Linked DNA regions of Homo sapiens. The protein of the gene in region 2 purifies or fractionates together with the protein of the main gene of each other region. This does not show direct contact. Each region holds a gene or a part of one and is shown on either strand. Other genes may lie near its edges.

Region 1 (8,068 bases), on a different chromosome or scaffold from region 2:
AAGGAGATTCTAACCTTCTCAACTGTTCTTCATTCACGTGTTATTTCAGAAGCACTAAGGCATTATAGATCATTGAAAATTTCATATATTATACTAGGTTTTACTAACATGAAAATGATATCCTCAAGCTTAAAAACAAGTATGAATTTCTTACCTGCTTCTTTCTCTTTGCAACAGTTTGGGAGATTTGAGATTAAGCTCGGATGAGTCCCATCATCATCATAGAGGTTGTTACAGTGTTCCTAAACAGAATAAACATTAATGAATAATTTTACATATAGAAATACATAGACGTCATCATTAAGAACAGCAGTTTTGAAATTCTCTGTCAACTGCAGATAGATATTCCAGTATTAAAGATTACCTTTATTTTCAATAATTGTTCTGGCTCAAAACCATGATATCAGGCACAAATCATAACTATGTCCCCTAGATACTACTTTAGAAAACAGAATTTTAGGGCAAAATTAAAGCATAGAAATCAATAAACATGGGTCAAATTCATTCAATGTTTGATCTAGCAAATAAAGCTAAGGAAAACGTGAGTAGCTAGAATAATAGCATATGGTCATTGCTCAATATCTATGGGAGATTAGTTTTAGGGCCCCCGAAGATACCAAAATCCACGGATGCTCAAGTCCCTTTTATATAATGGCATACTATTTACATACAACCTGAGTACATCCTCCCGTATACTTTAAATAATACTTATAATACCTAATACAATGTAAATGTCATGTAAAAGCATACTTTTTATTTATTTATTTATTTTTGAGACAAGGTCTGGCTCTATCACCCAGGCTGGAGTGCAGCAGTGCAATCTCAGGTCACTGCAACCTGTCACCCAGGTTCAAGCCATTCTCCTACCTCAGCCTCCTGAGTAACTGGGACTACAGGTGCGCACTACCACACCCAGCTAATTTTTGTATTTTTTTGTAGAGACGAGGTTTCGCCATGTTGCCCAGGCAGGTCTTGAACCCATGAGCTCAAGCAATCCGTGTGCCTCGGCCTCCCAAAGTGCTGGGATTACAGCTGGGAGCCACTGAGCCCAACCTAAAAGAATACTTTTAAATGGCATTGTTACATGGTATTGTTAATATGTATGGTATGATGCTGTTATATGTTATTGTTTTTATGTGTTTTGTGACTTTTTTCCCTGATAATTTTTGATCTGTGGTTGGTTCAATCCATGGATGCAGAACCAACAGATTTGAAGGTTACAAGTACCATATATGGTGTCAGATGAGGAAAACTATGTAAATGATCCCAGATAGAAGAACTGCATTAAAACAAGAAAAAAAGCCAACAGTTAAATGGTATAACATCGTGTTCTGTCTTTTAAACATGGGAACCACACCTATTCTTAGTATTTGAATCTTTTTACATTACTATATTCTTGAGGAAGAAACAAGGAAAGAAGGTAGCAGTTGTCCCTGTGTGTTTCTGCAAATAAAGAATACAGTGTAGGCAAGTTAGGAAAGAAGGGATATTGTAAGCCCTGTATAAAAAGACAGAACGAGTCTAAACACAGGGCCCCTGGAGCTCAGCAGGAGACAGCCAGGGCTGCAGACTGGATCAAAGTTCCCTCTTAATCACCACCTACTCATCCGGCCTCAACCTAAACCTCTGACCAGTCCTTGTTATCAAGAATTCCTCATTTTCTCCTGTACATCCAATTCTAAGAACATTACCTGCTCTAAGAAATAGTCCTGCCCCAAACAAATCTCCTTCATCTGTCTCTCAAGTCAGTTCATTTTTCTGACCAGGAAAATGTACATACCAATATTGCAAAATAAGTTAACTTATACAACAAAGCTCATGTTTACTTTTAGATTTATTTTTAACTAAATCAGAAAAGTCAGCAAACAACTCACATTTTATATGCCTCCTAATTTTTGCCATCTTAGTATAAAGATCATTAGTTGTAAATGTTTTCTTTTCTTTTTTTTTGGAGATGGAGTCTCGCTCTGTTGCCCAGGCTGGAGTGCAGGGGCACAATCTCGGCTCACTGAAAGCTCTGCCCCCTGGGTTCACGCCATTCTCCTGCCCCAGCCTCCCGAGTAGCTGGGACTACAGGTGCCCGCCACTACGCCCGGCTAATTTTTTGTATTTTTAGTAGAGATGGGGTTTCACTGTGTCAGCCAGGACGGTCTCTATCTCCTGACCTTGTGATCCACCTGCCTCGGCCTCCCAAAGTGCTGGGATTACAGGCATAAGCCACCACGCCCGGCCAGTTGTAAATGTTTTCACATGATTCTAATGACAAGACTTAATATTTGCTGTGTCATATTGTTAGAAAGTAAGAGTTCCATGGATCGTTCAGATGTTAAGTCTTTTTGAGGAGAAGATATGAACAAACAGTGCTGTGTGTATTACAGACCCAAATCAGCTTTTTTTTTTTTTTTTTGTCCCAGACTGGTCTCAAACTCCTGGGCTCAAGCGATCCTTCAGTGTTGGCCTTCCAAAGTCAGGGGATTACAGGTGTGAGCTATTGTACCTGGCCCCAAATCAGCTCTTTGAACAAAATTGTTAAAGCTTTACAAATAGCAATTGACCATCAATGATCCATGTAAATAGAAGGTAATTTAGTTCCTTTTGGCTTCAGAACAAATCAGAACAGGCTTGTAGGCATACTTGTATGTTAAAATGCTTATGGTTTGAAAAAAAGATTTGTATTTCTGAAGTGCCAGACACTCGTGGTGATTTTATATTATCCCATTTAATGCTCAAATTACTCTAAAAGTAGTTACCAACTTTACATTTTTATAGATAAGGAAACCAGGCAGAGAAAGGTCAAATAATTTGCTCAGTGATTACATTTCCAAGTCAAGATCTGAAACTTGGCATTTTGACTCCTGAGGCTAGGCTCTCAACCTCTCATGGACTGACAGCCTGTCATGGATTTTAACAGCAGACTTATCTGGGTTCACTTAACAACCTACAAGCCTAAGTGTATGTCAAACAGGTCCTATACCTTTCTCGGAGCACTACTGTTATATATATATGCCAGAACTGTCAACAGAAACTACTCAATAAATGCCAGCTAGTTCCCATCAACTTTCTCTTTCCTCATATTGACTGAGCTTCGAGAAAAAAGGATGGCTATAAGAGGTACTTTTAAGACTAAATATTTTGGGTGGAATGATCAGTTTAACAGATTGACACATTAATTATGATTAAGTAATTAATATCACTTATATAATTATATAAAATGAATCAATAACATATAATTATGTTAGTGCAATAAGATTATGTAAGATTATGACCCTTTATAAACTACAGTCTACTTACATTAAATTCTGCATGCTATATACGATACTTAATTTTTTAAAAATAAGAACAAAAAGAAACTACACCCAGTGTTGTTAATAAGAAAAGATGAGGAAAAAAATTTACGGTAAGACGAGTAAGACATTTCCTTTTAAACTAGCATGATATATGACATTTCAAGGGTATTACTTTGAAGCAAAATGCATTTTTATTCATTTGCTTTAGGAAATTTAACTCTCTTCTTACCTGTAAGCTCTCTAGACACATCTTAACAGAGGGTTTCTTCAGTACAGAACGAAGTACAAAGGTCTTGGGGGTGGGAAGGTCCCTCCTGCAGGCTGGAGTAGCTGGTGACCTGACATCAGGGACTGCGTCTGAGCTCACTTCTGCTGTGAACGTGTCAGGCGAAACGGCATCACTTGATCCTTTGCCCACTACACAGTCAGCAACCTTTAGTGCTTCAAGATAAACATGTAAACTTGAGAGGCAGAAGATCTCTTAAATCTGTTTGTTCTAGACCAAAAATATAGTATTTGCAAAGATAATAACATGCTATGAAGAAATTCAAACCTAATATAACCTGATTGGGCAGTAACGTCTGGGATTTCATTTGGAAACAGAAAAGGAGGTAAAGAAGCAGCATCGGTCAGTTTTTACCTCAAATCGGACTACGAAGGGTAAAGTGGGTATGGGGATTTGGCTCCCCAGGAAATCTCTGAGTCAGAGGTTGAAAGAAGGTATCATGAATCAGCTATAAGCTATTAGCGTGCCTCTACTCATGACACCCACTACTTGGACCATAAAAACTAATCTGAGCCAAGCATTGACTAATAAGCAATTTTACCGCTAGAGTCACAGGCATTTCAACATCCGAGGGTGGCAGGAATGAGAAAAGAAAGATCATCACACCAAACTATAAACACACTGTATGTGCCCCAAACAGGCGTGGCTTTTCTTCCCAAATTCTTCCCACAGGAGAGCGTTGCCTTATGATTAAGTGATCCATTGAACAAATACATGATGTGACAGGCACTCCTCTGGGTGCTGAAGAAGTAAAGATGAGCAAACCCCCAAAACCAGCACGGAATAAGCAGGGATTATAAAATCTCACAGCAGGGAGGAGGGAGAGGGAAAGAGTGATGGCTATGAAGGGTAACATGAGGATCCTCAGGACAGAACCATGCTGTGGCTTGGCTGTACTGTGCTCACATGAATCCACATGTGATAAAACCACACGGACTAAACATACACAAAAAGTATGTGCATGTAAAACTGGTGAAATCTGAAAACAAGTTGGTGGATTGTAGCAATGTCAATTTCCTGGTTGTGATATTAATATATCGTAGCTATGCAACATGTCACTACTGCGGGAAACTAGGTGAAGGGAATACTGGATTTCTTTATATTATTTCTTACAACTAGATAGCAAATTTATAGTTATTTCAAGTAAAAAGTTAATATATATATATATATATATATATACACACACACAACAAGTAGTTAATATATGCTATTAAGGAAAATAATGTAGCAAGAGAGGAATACAGTATGATAAGCTGGAAGGAAGTGCTACTGCTTTGGGTAAACAGAGAGTTCCTGAGCAGACACCTGAAAAGAACAAGGCGAACCACACATAGATCTAGGGATGGACATTATGCACACAAAGCCAAGTGCAAAGACCTGAGGTAAAGATGTACCTGGCATAGCAGAGGCCCAGCAAGGCTGCTGTGGCTGGAACAGTGGGCATGGACAAGAGAGCTGAGAAATAAGCTCAGAGCAAAGGTTAAGAACCAGGCCAGGGAAGGCCTAGTAGAAATAATATGGTCTTTGGCTACTTCTCTAAGTATAACAGGAAGTCGATGAAAGATTTTGAGGAGGGCAGTGAGATACTGTGACTTACATTTTAAAACCAGTGCTCTGGCTACTGTGTGAAAAACTGTAACAGGGGATTGGGGAAAGAGGGGAAGCAGGAAAACCACTTCAGAGGATACATAAAAAAATCCAGGCAGGAGATGGTGATGGCCTGGACCACACTGATAGGAATGCAAAAGGTGAGAAGTGGGTGGACATTTGACATATTTTGAAGACCTAGTAGCATTTGTCAATGCGATTACAAGTTTCATTTGAAAAAGGGAGGTATCACTTGGGTGCAGTGGCTCACATCTGTAATCCCAGCACTTTGAGAGACCAAGGTGGAATGGAAGGATTGCTTGAGCCCAGGAGTTGGAGACCAGCCTGGGCAACATAGTAGGATCCTGTACCTACCAAAAAAAAAAATTAGCTGGGCATGGTAGTGAGCACCTGTGGTCCCAGCTACTTGGAAGGCTGAGGTAGGAGGACTCCTAGAGCTCAGGAGGTTGAGGCTGCAGTGAGCCAAGATCACACCACTGCACTCCAGCCTGGGTGACAGCGAGACTCTAACTTAAGAAAAAAAAAAAAAAGGAAAAGAAAAAGAAAGGTATCAAGTTAAGTCCAATATTTGAGATACAGCAATGAGGTGAATGAGAGTGTCATTTACTAAGATGAGGAAAACAGAGATGAGCAGGTTGGTGAAGGAAAAAATCATCAAGACCTATTTGACTATGTTCAGTTTGAGATGTTTATTAGGCATTCAAGTGAAGGTCATGAAAGGGAGCTGGATACTTAATTCAAGAGTTCCGGGAAAAGGCCACGGGCAACTATTTTAATTTGAAGTCAACAGCATGTGATAATGTTTGAAGTCACCTAGAAAGAGTTCACATTGGGTATCCTTTATCCAAAATGCTTGGGATCAGAAGTGTTTCAGATTACAAATTTTTTTCAGATTTTGAAATATTTGCATTCTACTTACCAGTCAAGCATCTCTAACCTGAAAATCCAGAAATGCTCCAATAACCATCTCCTTTGAGTGTCATGTTTGCACTCAAAAAGTTACAGAATTTGGATTTTTGGCTTACAGATGCTCAACCTGTATATAGAGACAAAAGGTCCAAGCACCGAACATGAAGGTCGAGGGGGGGCATTCAAATATTTGAAGGTCAGGATGAAAGAAGAGGAGCAAAGAAAATACACAAAGAGGAAATGGTCAGTGATGCAAGGGAAAATGAGAATGACATCCTGAAACCCAGGTGAGGAAAAGGCTTCTCACAGGAGGGCCTGGTTGTAGATGTCTATATCCGTCCATAGTGCTGCTAAGACATCAAGGAAAGGAATGTGTTGAGTCTGACTACCACTGGGTTGGCAGCCAGGAGATGGCTGGTCAACAAGGCCTATTTGGAGCTGGATCAAGAAAGAATGGGAGGCAAGGAGACAGAGTGTGGCCTTCTCTTAAAAGTTTTGCCTAAAGTAGAGTAAAGAAATGGTGTTCTGGCTAGAAGGCAATCCTGGGGCAAAGGGAAGTTTAAGATGGGATATTTTACAGCATCTTGTAGCTGAATAAGAAAAGTTAACAATTCAGAAAAGAGAGGAGACAACTCAGACACAAGGTCCTTAGAAGGAGAAGGAGCAATGGGAATCAGTCCCTAAAAAAGAGGGTAGAGGCCAGGCGTGGTGGCTCATGCCTGTAATTCCAGCACTTTGGGAGGCCTAGGTGGGCAGATCACCAGAGGTTAGGAGTTTGAGAGCAGCCCGGCCAACATGGTGAGACAGCATCTCTACTAAAAATACAAAAATTAGCTGGGTGTGGTGGCGGGCACCTGTAGTCCCAGCTACTCAGGAGGGCTGGGTTAGGAGAATCACCTGAACCCAGGAGGCAGAGGTTGCAGTGAGCTGGGGCCGCACCATTGCACTACAGCCTGGGCGGCAGAGTGAGACTCCATCTCAAAAAAAAAAAAGAAAAAAAAGAGGCTGGCCCTAGGTAAGAACATTGAGACCCTTTTGAAAGAGGAGCAAAGGTAGATACACACATACAGAGATGCAGGAGGGCTTAGGGGTGAGAGGACCAAGACCTTTGCTCCCAAAATCTCTTATTTTCTCAATGGTACAGGAAGCAAGGAACTGCAAAAGGCTACCAGGGAACTTTCTCTCAGATCACTCATGAGTAGAGCTGCCAGGTTTGGCAAATAAAGATGCAGGGGCCCAGTTAAATCTGAATTATATCTAATTCCTTACGTATGTGTACTTTGATATAAAACAAAAACACTGGAGTGATGTGGGGGAGATAGTGGAGTAAGAGTTCTGTGGCTTCATTCCCTGTTCCCAGAGAAATCCAATGAGCAACTATCTGCAGGCAAAAATAACATTCTGAATATCCCAGAATTTGGGAGTGAGGTTGACACACCTCCTTGGACCCCAGAATGGAGAAAAGCCACAAACAAGTGGTAAGAAACTTTTCTGTTTGACTGTGCTGCCCTTCTCCCAACTGGCACAGTGCCACACACAGAGAATTCCCCTGGACCCACAGTTTCTACAGTGGGAAGAGTGAGTGGGAAGCAGACGTTTGGCTTCCCCACCATTCTGGGATACTTCGCAGGAGCTGCACTCCTGTCTTGTCCCCCAGGAAACACTGGGAGTACTGGCAAGGCTGGGCCACTGGGGGGCAGATAAAAACAAAGAACGTGGGATGGGGATCACAGCCACCAGAGAGCGAATTCTGGTGGCTTCCTGCATTCCAGCTAACAGAGATGCCACACCAGAGAAACCAGCCAGCAGTATTAAACTGCAGGAAACATGGTTAGTGGGTCTTCCAGGTTAAAATCCCTGTCCAGCTTCCCCACACAGCCTGGGTGCTCCCATCAGGTCTTCGCCAGGTCGAGAAGCAACTGTAGGTCAGTGATTGCCCACAGAGGAAATATCTGGCCCCATCTAACCCTAGCTGTAA
Region 2 (8,287 bases):
TAGAAGTCCAAAATGATTAACATGGGTGTGTTAGTATTCTGGGAACTTATAACCTTTCAAAAACAAATCATTGGCTTAACTCTTCAATACGATGGCATTAGTGGAAGGGGCAGGAGTTGGGGAACGGCGTGAACTCTGCAGTGGATTCCGGCACCTAACCAAAGAGGGTGCTCCTGTCCATCCCTTAAAATTTACGATTTGTTTTCTGATCTTAATATCATAACAACAAAACAAAGAAAACCCACAACCCAGAGCTCCGCTATGAGTGTTGTGCTGCCTTCTTCACTAACTCTCCAGCTGGACAAAAAACCTTTCCATTTCCCCTGCTACCCACCTCGCCCAAAAACTTACTGATTAGTTTTGGGGACCTGCCAGGTCTTGTTAAACCTGCCTGAACTCCTTCGTGATACTCTCCCCACTCTTGTTTGCTCTCAACACCACAATACACCAGAGTAAGCTTCCTTATTCTGGTGTATTGTGTAATACAGAGTGTATTACAACCCCACAAAGTGGTCGCTAAGATATGAGGTGACATATCACTCTTTAGTATCTAAAAGTAAAATGCAAATGCTGGTATTCCAAAGGCCTCTACAATTTGATGGCCAGTGGAGTAATTACATACGGGCTGTCAGCTTTTAATACATTTTAGTGATTTTTAAATTTTGTAAGTTTATGCTATTTTTCTGATTACAAATGATATTAAAGTCCAAGATTCTAAAATATAAAGGATGAGAAATAAATACACTTTCCATTCGCTGGGAACCCTCTCTTTTTAATGTCCACCCAAAAACACTTGGTTAAGTTTTGCCATTAATCTTTGTCATACAAACAAAAACAAATACAGGAATAGACATAATTCTTTACTGTGCAGAAACCAGGTCTCTGTACGGATTCTTTTTGGCAATTTTCCTACTCATTAACTAATGTCTCCACCAGAGGGTTGGAGAAGTAAGAAGTCACCAACGGTCACGTTTGCTATTTAAGATTAACTGTGGGGCCAGCGAAGTGCCTCACGCCTGTAATCCCAGCACTTTGGGAGGCCAAGGTGGGCAGATCACTTGAGGTCAGGAGTTTGAGACCAGCCTGGCCAACATGGTGAAACCCCGTCTCTACTAAAAATAAAAAAATTAGCTGGGCGTGGTGGTGGCACCTGTAATCCCAGCTACTCCGGAGGCTGAGGCAGGAGAATCTCTTGAACCCAGGAGGTGGAGGTTGCAGTGAGCTGAGATCGCGCCAATGCACTCCAGCCTATGTGACAGAGCAAGACTCCATCTCAAAAAAAAAAAAAAAAAAAAAAGAAAAAGAAAAAAAAATTAGCTGTGGAGAAAAAAGGGATGGAGCTGAATACACAAAAACTGTAATAGTAAAATTGTAACTTCTAACTCATACCCACAATGAAGAGACAGGTGACGCAGTAAAATAGTCTAAATAAATGTAGGGGCTTCCACGTCCTAACATACTCACCAAATCAGTATATAACCAAAACGCAGGGATCTTTGTTTTGTTTACAGATATACTCCAAATGCCCCAACAGTGCCCAGCTCAAACAGCAGGTGTCCTGTCTGTCATTAGATCAGTGAGCTGGGGAAGTATTTCCCCAGTGAGCATAAAGTATTTCAAAAAATACTAAAAGATGCTGGCATCCCAGTTTTGCCATTTTCTAGCTGTGAGAACTTGGGCAAGTTATATTTAATTTTTGTGCCTCAGTTTCTTCATCTGTGGAACAGGAAGTATTAAGAAAGTTAAGATAAACAAAGACTGGCTTAGAACAGTGCCTGGAGCAGAGGAAGGGCTTAATAAATTATTAAAGAAACAAGTTTTATTAGAAGCAAAGGCTATAAACTATCATTTTCCCTCCAAAACGTAAAAGTTGTAGCATGGAAGAAGAATAACTTGGATTACAAACCAGATTTTTACAAATATTTTACCAAATCCCTATTTTATTTCAAAGCATGACACTTCAGACAATACATTTTACTTTTATGCTAGAAGTGGGGGGGAGAAAAAACCCTCTGTAAAATATTCAGAACAAGGCCTGGCACCTGGAGTCTTATGTCTAGCTACTGTTATGAAGAACTTAAGGGAGGCGGAAGGATCTCTTGAAGCCAGGAGTTGGAAACCAACTTGGTCTCTACGAAAATAAAGATGGACATAGATTAGATGAATAGAAATAAAAAATTAGCCGAGCGTAGTGGCGCACGCCTGTGGTCCCAGCTACTTGGAAAGCTGAGGCAGGAGAATCACTTGAGCCCAGGAGCTTCAGGCTACACAGTGAGCTACCACTACACTGAGGCCTGGTGACAAAGCAAGACCCAGTCTCAATCAAACAATCAATAAAAGGGAATTTAAAAAACGTTTGCGTTTGTGGGTAAAAAACCAAATTAGACATGATTTCTAGGTATGAAGCAACGTGGTGGGAGACTGAAAGTCTAGGTAAACTGGAAAAAAACATTATTTGTGCCTGATATAGTTATGTGGTCTCTGGCATCTGGTGTAGCTCTGCCCTTGGAAAGCTCAACTTGTCAACATCACCTTAAAACGAAAACACAGATTTGGCTACACTTAATAGTGAAGTGCCTTGTTGGAGGAAAACAACAAGGGGGCCAAGTAAGGAGACAGAAATACCTAATCTCCAAGCTGGTTCTTAATGGAACCGAGCAAATGGGTGATGAATAACCCGGGAACGCAGTAAGACAGGCCAGAGAGGTAATGCGCCCAAGAGAAGAGAGACGAGGGGCGGCCAGGGGGAGAGGAAGCTCGAGAGGAATCGCTAGGAAGGAAACGGAGAAGACCACGCCAGGACAGCCCTGCCAGCCCCCTACCTCCGGCGGGGCCGCAGGGGAGAGTCTCACTCGAGTCGGACGCCGCAGCCCGGTGGGGCCCGGGCCCCGCTTCAAAAACAGCCGGGGCTGCGTCGCCGCTGTCATCCCACCCCACCCTCCACCCGTCGCTCCCCCACCGCGCGCCCCGCCCGGCCCGTGCGCCCGACCCAGGCTCCCTCCCTAGAGTCCCGACCTCTAGCCCTGTACCCCACTTCCCAGGGTCCCGTCCTCCAGCCCCTTAAGCCCCTCCCCAGGGTCTGGTCCCCCGGCCCCGCACCCCTCCCCAGGGGCCCGTCCCCCGGCGCTGAACCCGCACCTCCCTCCCCAGGGTCCAGTCCCCAGCCCTGCACTCGCACTCCCCTCCCAGGCCCGAGCCCGCTCCCGCCCTCCCGGCCCTGGGCTCTCAGCACCAGGCTCCCGCCCTCAGCCTCTTCTCCTCCCGCGCCCGCCGCCGCTCCTCACCTCCTCGGCGGCCGCCGCTGCACTCGCTGGGTCTTGGTTGCGGCGAAACCCGGGGCGCAGCGGCGCAGGGGTCTGGAGCCCGCAGGGGTCGCCGGGCTGAGCGCGCTCGGCCGCTTCCGGTGCTGCGCTGCGGAACTCAGAGGACTTAGTGCTCGGCAAGCCCAGAGACTCAAACACCATATCCCTGGGGGGGCTCCTCACGCTGTGTTCGGCAGGGAGGCGAGAGCGCCGGTTCAGCCAGAGACAGCTGGGGGAACCGCGCCGAACACGCTCCGGGCGGCCATTTTGTAACTCGAATCTACCCCCAAAACCAATTCGAAAAAAAGGGAGGAAAGAAACGCCCGCGTTCAGCTACTGCGCAAGCGCGCCGGCGCTTCCGGCAGTAGCACCTCCTTCCGCCGGCCGGGCCCCTTACGCGGCGCATGCGCCCAGCTCCCTGGAAACCGGCGCGGGGCTGAGAATGCCGGTCTCGCGCAAGCGCGCACGCGCCGACCTTGATCTCGTAGCCGGCGCCAGCAGCCGCGCTTTGGGGCGTCGGCTCACGTGGGGCCGGCAACGCGTCTTCCAGGATGTTCGCGCGCTAGTCGCCGCTGAGGGGCCGGCGATGCGCGAGGAGTTCCGGCGAGGAAGGTCGGTCAGTGGACATGGCCGAGGCCCGCGGTGTCCGCGTGTGGGAGCTGCAGGGCTGAGGAGAGGCCGCCCGCAACCCTCGGGAATCGTGTGAGGTGCCACTGGGGTCGCTTCACATCAGGAGGCCCCGTCTCGGGGGACGCGCGCAGGTGACCCTGCTGGTCGTACCTGGCCGGGGTGGCCCGGAGGGGCTGGGTCTCGGCGCCAGGAGGGGCCGTGTGGGCCGCCTGTTAAAGGACCCCTCGTTCGCTGACATTTGATTTTGCATTGGGTGCCTTCTCTTCTGTTTTTTTCAGCCAGTGAGATCCGTCCTGGGCACTCAGCTGTAGAGCAGGGGAACGAGTCCTGCGCTTTTTGCGCTGAGGTCTCCTGGCCCGTAGGCCAGGCAGCCTCTGAGCTCCTTTCTCACCAGCAGCTTGCGATCCCTCATCCCTGGCCCTGTCACTCCCAGCTGTTTCCAGTGCCGCCCTTTTTTTTTTTTTTTTTTTGAGATGGAGAGTTTAACTTGTTCGCCCAGGCTGGAGTGAAGTGGCACGATCTTGGCCTACTGCAACCTCTGCCTCCCGGATTCAAGCGATTCTCCTGCCTCAGCCTCCCGAGTAGTTGGGATTACAGTCGTGCGCCACCACGCCCGGCTAATGTTTATATTTTTAGTAGAGACGGGTTTTCACCATATTGGTCAGGCTGGTCTCGAACTCGTGACCTCAGGTGATTCCCTCCCCCCGCCCCACCACCTCAGCCTCCCAAAGTGCTGGGATTACAGGCCTGAGCCACCGTTCCCGGCCTCGAGCGCCTTCTTATAAACTGGATGGTGGTTTTTGTTTTCACCTTCAAAGTCGAATCTCCCTAGTCCGTTTATTACCAGAAAGAGGTCTCCACTCAGACCCAGCGAGAGGCTTCTTGGATGTCGCGTAGGAAAGAATTCGGGGCGAGTCCACGGACTAAAGTGAAAGCAAGTGTATTAGAGAAGTGAGAAAGCAAAAGAATGGCAGAGCAGGGCATTCCTGAAAGCGGGAGGAGGAAGGCGCCCGCCTTAGGTACAGTGCTTGTTCAAATCTAAGGTAACACAGCCAAAGAAATCTTGGGGGACATGGGCTCTACCACGAGGGCCCACGACCAAGGTTTCATGCGCGTCCGTGTGAAGAGACCACCAAACAGGATTTGTGTGAGCAACATGGCTGTTTATTTCACCTGGGTGCAGGCGGGCTGAGTCCAAAAAGACAGTCAGCGAAGGGAGATAGGGGTGGGGCCGTTTTATAGGATTTGGGAAGGTAATGGAAAATTACAGTCAAAGGGGGTTGTTCTCTGGTGGGCAGGGGTGGGGGGTCACAAGGTGCTCAGTGGGGGAGCTTCTGAGCCAGGAGAAGGAAATTCACAGGGTTAATCACTTAGTTAAGGTTGGGCAGGAACAAATCACGATGGTGGAATGTCATCAGTTAAGGTGGGGCAGGGCCTTTTCACTTCTTTTGTGATTCTTCAGTTACTTCAGGCCATCTGGGCGTATACGTACAAGTCACAGGGGATGCGATGGCTTGGCTTGGGCTCAGAGGCCTGACACAAGGATTGTTCATCTTTGTTTACTGACTTTGGCAAAGATCTATATTATCTTTAAAGCGAAACCTAAATGAAGAATGCTTTTGATCTTAAGATATTGTTAGGTTTTGAAGGGAAGACGAGAGTTAAAGAATGACACACAGGTCGGGCGCTGTGGCTCACGCCTGTAATCCCAGCACTTTGGGAGGCCGAGGCGGGTGCATCACCTGAGGTCAGGAGTGGGAGACCAGCCCGACCAACATGGTGAAACCTCATCTCTACTAAAAATACAAAAATTAGCGGGGCGTGGTGGCACATGCCTGTAATCTCAGCTACTTGGGAGGCTGAAGCAGGAGAATCACTTGAACCCGCGAGGCAGAGGTTGCAGCGAGCCAAAATCACGCCATTGCACTCCAGGCTGGGTAATACAGTGAGACTGCGTCTCAAAAAAAAAAAAAAAAAAAAAAAAAAACAAAGGGCAGCTCAACAGCAACACAGGTATATGGCAAAAACCTACAGAGATGGGGGATCAGCTTAATGCCAGAGCCCACTGCTGCTTACAGGCTGGGGTACTTATAGGGCAGGAGGGGAATGGGCAGTATGGCTTGCCATGTGAATATACTTACCAGTATATCTATCCATAAAACGTTCTATGATCAGGCAGTTTGGCCCTTGTTCCCTCAGAAAGTGACAGTGATGTTCCTTGCACCTTTGCTGAGCAAGGTTTGATAGGGATGTTCCTTCAATTGGGCCTTTACCCAACAGGGTTTGGTAAGAAAGTTGGGCAGGAAATTTCTCACGGCCTGAACCCCCGTGGAATGTTTCGCTTTGACCAGTGTCTGCGAAATGGCGGGGGGCTTAGAAAATGGTGCAGTTTGGCAGGGCGTGGTGGCTCACGCCTGTAATCCCAGCACTTTGGGAGGCTGAGGCGGGTGGATCACAAGGTCAAGAGATCGAGACCATCCTGGCCAACATGGTGAAACCCTATCTCTACTAAAAATACAAAAAATTAGCCGGGCGTGGTAGCGGGTGCCTGTAGTCCCAGCTACTCAGGAGGCTGAGGCAGGAGAATGGCGTGAACCCAGGAGGCGGAGCTTGCAGTGAGCTGAGATTGCCCCACTGCACTCCCGCCTGGGCAACAGAGCGAGACTCCATCTCAAAAAAAAAAAAAAAAGAAAGAAAGAAAATGGTGCAGTTTGGACTAACAGATACAGCGACATCAAAATGTTTCCTGGGTCTGTTAAGTCCTGGGTTTGTTTAGTGAACGTTATTAATCTGTTCCTGTAACCCTAAACATCTTGTGACTACTAAGAATGCAGCCAACAGGTCTCTGCCTGATTTTACCTACTGCCTCTTCAAGATGGAATTGCTCTGGTTCCAATGCCTCTGACAAACTGGCTGCTTGATCTCTAGGTTGTGACCATGTCAGGGATAGAGGCAGCTTAGGTAGAGGTAGACTTTCTTGTACTCAACATTGAATTGTGGCTTAGTTAAAATCAGAACTTTCATTCTTGGAATAATACAGTATTGTAAGGGTAAGCCAAATGATTAACACATTTACTTAATTACACATTGTAGCATTGAAATAACTGATGCCTTTCTAATGCAAATAAAAAAGATTTATGTATATGATAGCACTGTAGCTGTCTTGCGCCTTACTGGATGGATTTCATTGCTGGCTAAAATGACAACTTTAAACTGGCTATAACTCAGAAGAATGGAGGCACTTTGCACGCAGACATCTACCTCCATTGAATTTGGCTACTTCCTTTTAATGAAGCTCAAGTCTCATGTTATGAAATACTCCTCCAAAGGTGTTAGCCCTTTTTTCCTATACTCTGCCTTTCAAAAATCCCTTTCAATTTGCTTAACCCCTGAGAGCCAAAGGACTGTGATGGTTGTTAGGCTGGGTCATTGTCATCATGTTCAGTAAATAAATACCCAGACATGTCAGTTTACCTACTTTACCTGATTCCAAATGAGTCCATGGTGATGTGATCCTGCCTTTCTTTCTGCTGTTAGAGGTCCATGCCAGGAGCCAGCTTTGTATCAGTTTTGCCACAGTGATCAGGTCATAAATGTCTCAGATCATTCAAGCCCAGTTTAACCTAGCAAAGAAAATGGCAAGATAATATTGCTGTGTTCTAGCTGTGTTCTGGCCTTCATTTTAGGTAGGCTTAAACCTCGACCTGGAGTCATTCCTGTTACGATTTACCAGAAAACACCCAACAGGAAGCCTACAGAACTACACTTTGCTCCTAATGTTAAGGAATGAAAACAGGAAATGTTCTGTTATCTGCCTGGCAGTGGGGCTTTGGAGTTAATCTCCTGGCCGTATCACTTACCAGCTTGGCAGCCTTGGACAAACTGAGCTCTGAGCTCAAGTTTCCTCATCTGTAAAGCGAGGGTGTATTATGTACCTTCATTTGGTTGTACAGATTAAGTGTGAACACTTAGGTAAAGCACACAGTATGGGGCTGAGTAAATGGACTGTTAAATAAGACAGTATCACTTGTTTTTAAGTTCCTTGGAGCTTTCTCCCCTAAACAGCTCAAAAGATTTTCATTTTTTTCTAATGCTAATATTTTTCTAATTCTTGTTTTAAAATATTTTACTGTAAAATATTTTGGCCAGGTGTAGTGGCTCACACCTGTAATCCCAACACTTTGGGAGACCAAGGCAGGAGGATTGCTTGAGCCCAGGAGTTGGAGACCAGACTGAGCAACATAATGAGACCTCGTCTCGTCAAAAAACAAAAATGGAAAATTTTTAAAAAACAGGCCGGGCATGGTGGCTCACGCCTGTAATCCCAGCACTTTGGGAGGCCAACGTAGGCAGAT

Evidence for each region. Proteins that work in one complex are often made in the same cells at the same time.
Region 1: the proteins of NUP50 (region 2) and CDCA2 purify together in Homo sapiens (affinity purification with mass spectrometry; 4 studies listed by BioGRID and IntAct, with this or other methods). This does not show direct contact.

The regions. Positions count from the first base shown.
Region 1 is NC_000008.11:25,475,573-25,483,640, reverse strand, and holds part of CDCA2 (cell division cycle-associated protein 2), read right to left. Parts: intron 3,729-8,068; coding exon 3,517-3,728; intron 243-3,516; coding exon 155-242; intron 1-154. UniProt on the Homo sapiens protein: Regulator of chromosome structure during mitosis required for condensin-depleted chromosomes to retain their compact architecture through anaphase.
Region 2 is NC_000022.11:45,159,294-45,167,580, reverse strand, and holds the start of NUP50 (nuclear pore complex protein Nup50), read right to left. Parts: upstream 3,657-8,287; 5' UTR 3,285-3,656; intron 2,911-3,284; exon of another isoform or gene 2,626-2,910; intron 1,717-2,625; exon of another isoform or gene 1,465-1,716; intron 1,302-1,464; exon of another isoform or gene 1,151-1,301; intron 1-1,150. UniProt on the Homo sapiens protein: Component of the nuclear pore complex that has a direct role in nuclear protein import. Actively displaces NLSs from importin-alpha, and facilitates disassembly of the importin-alpha:beta-cargo complex and importin recycling.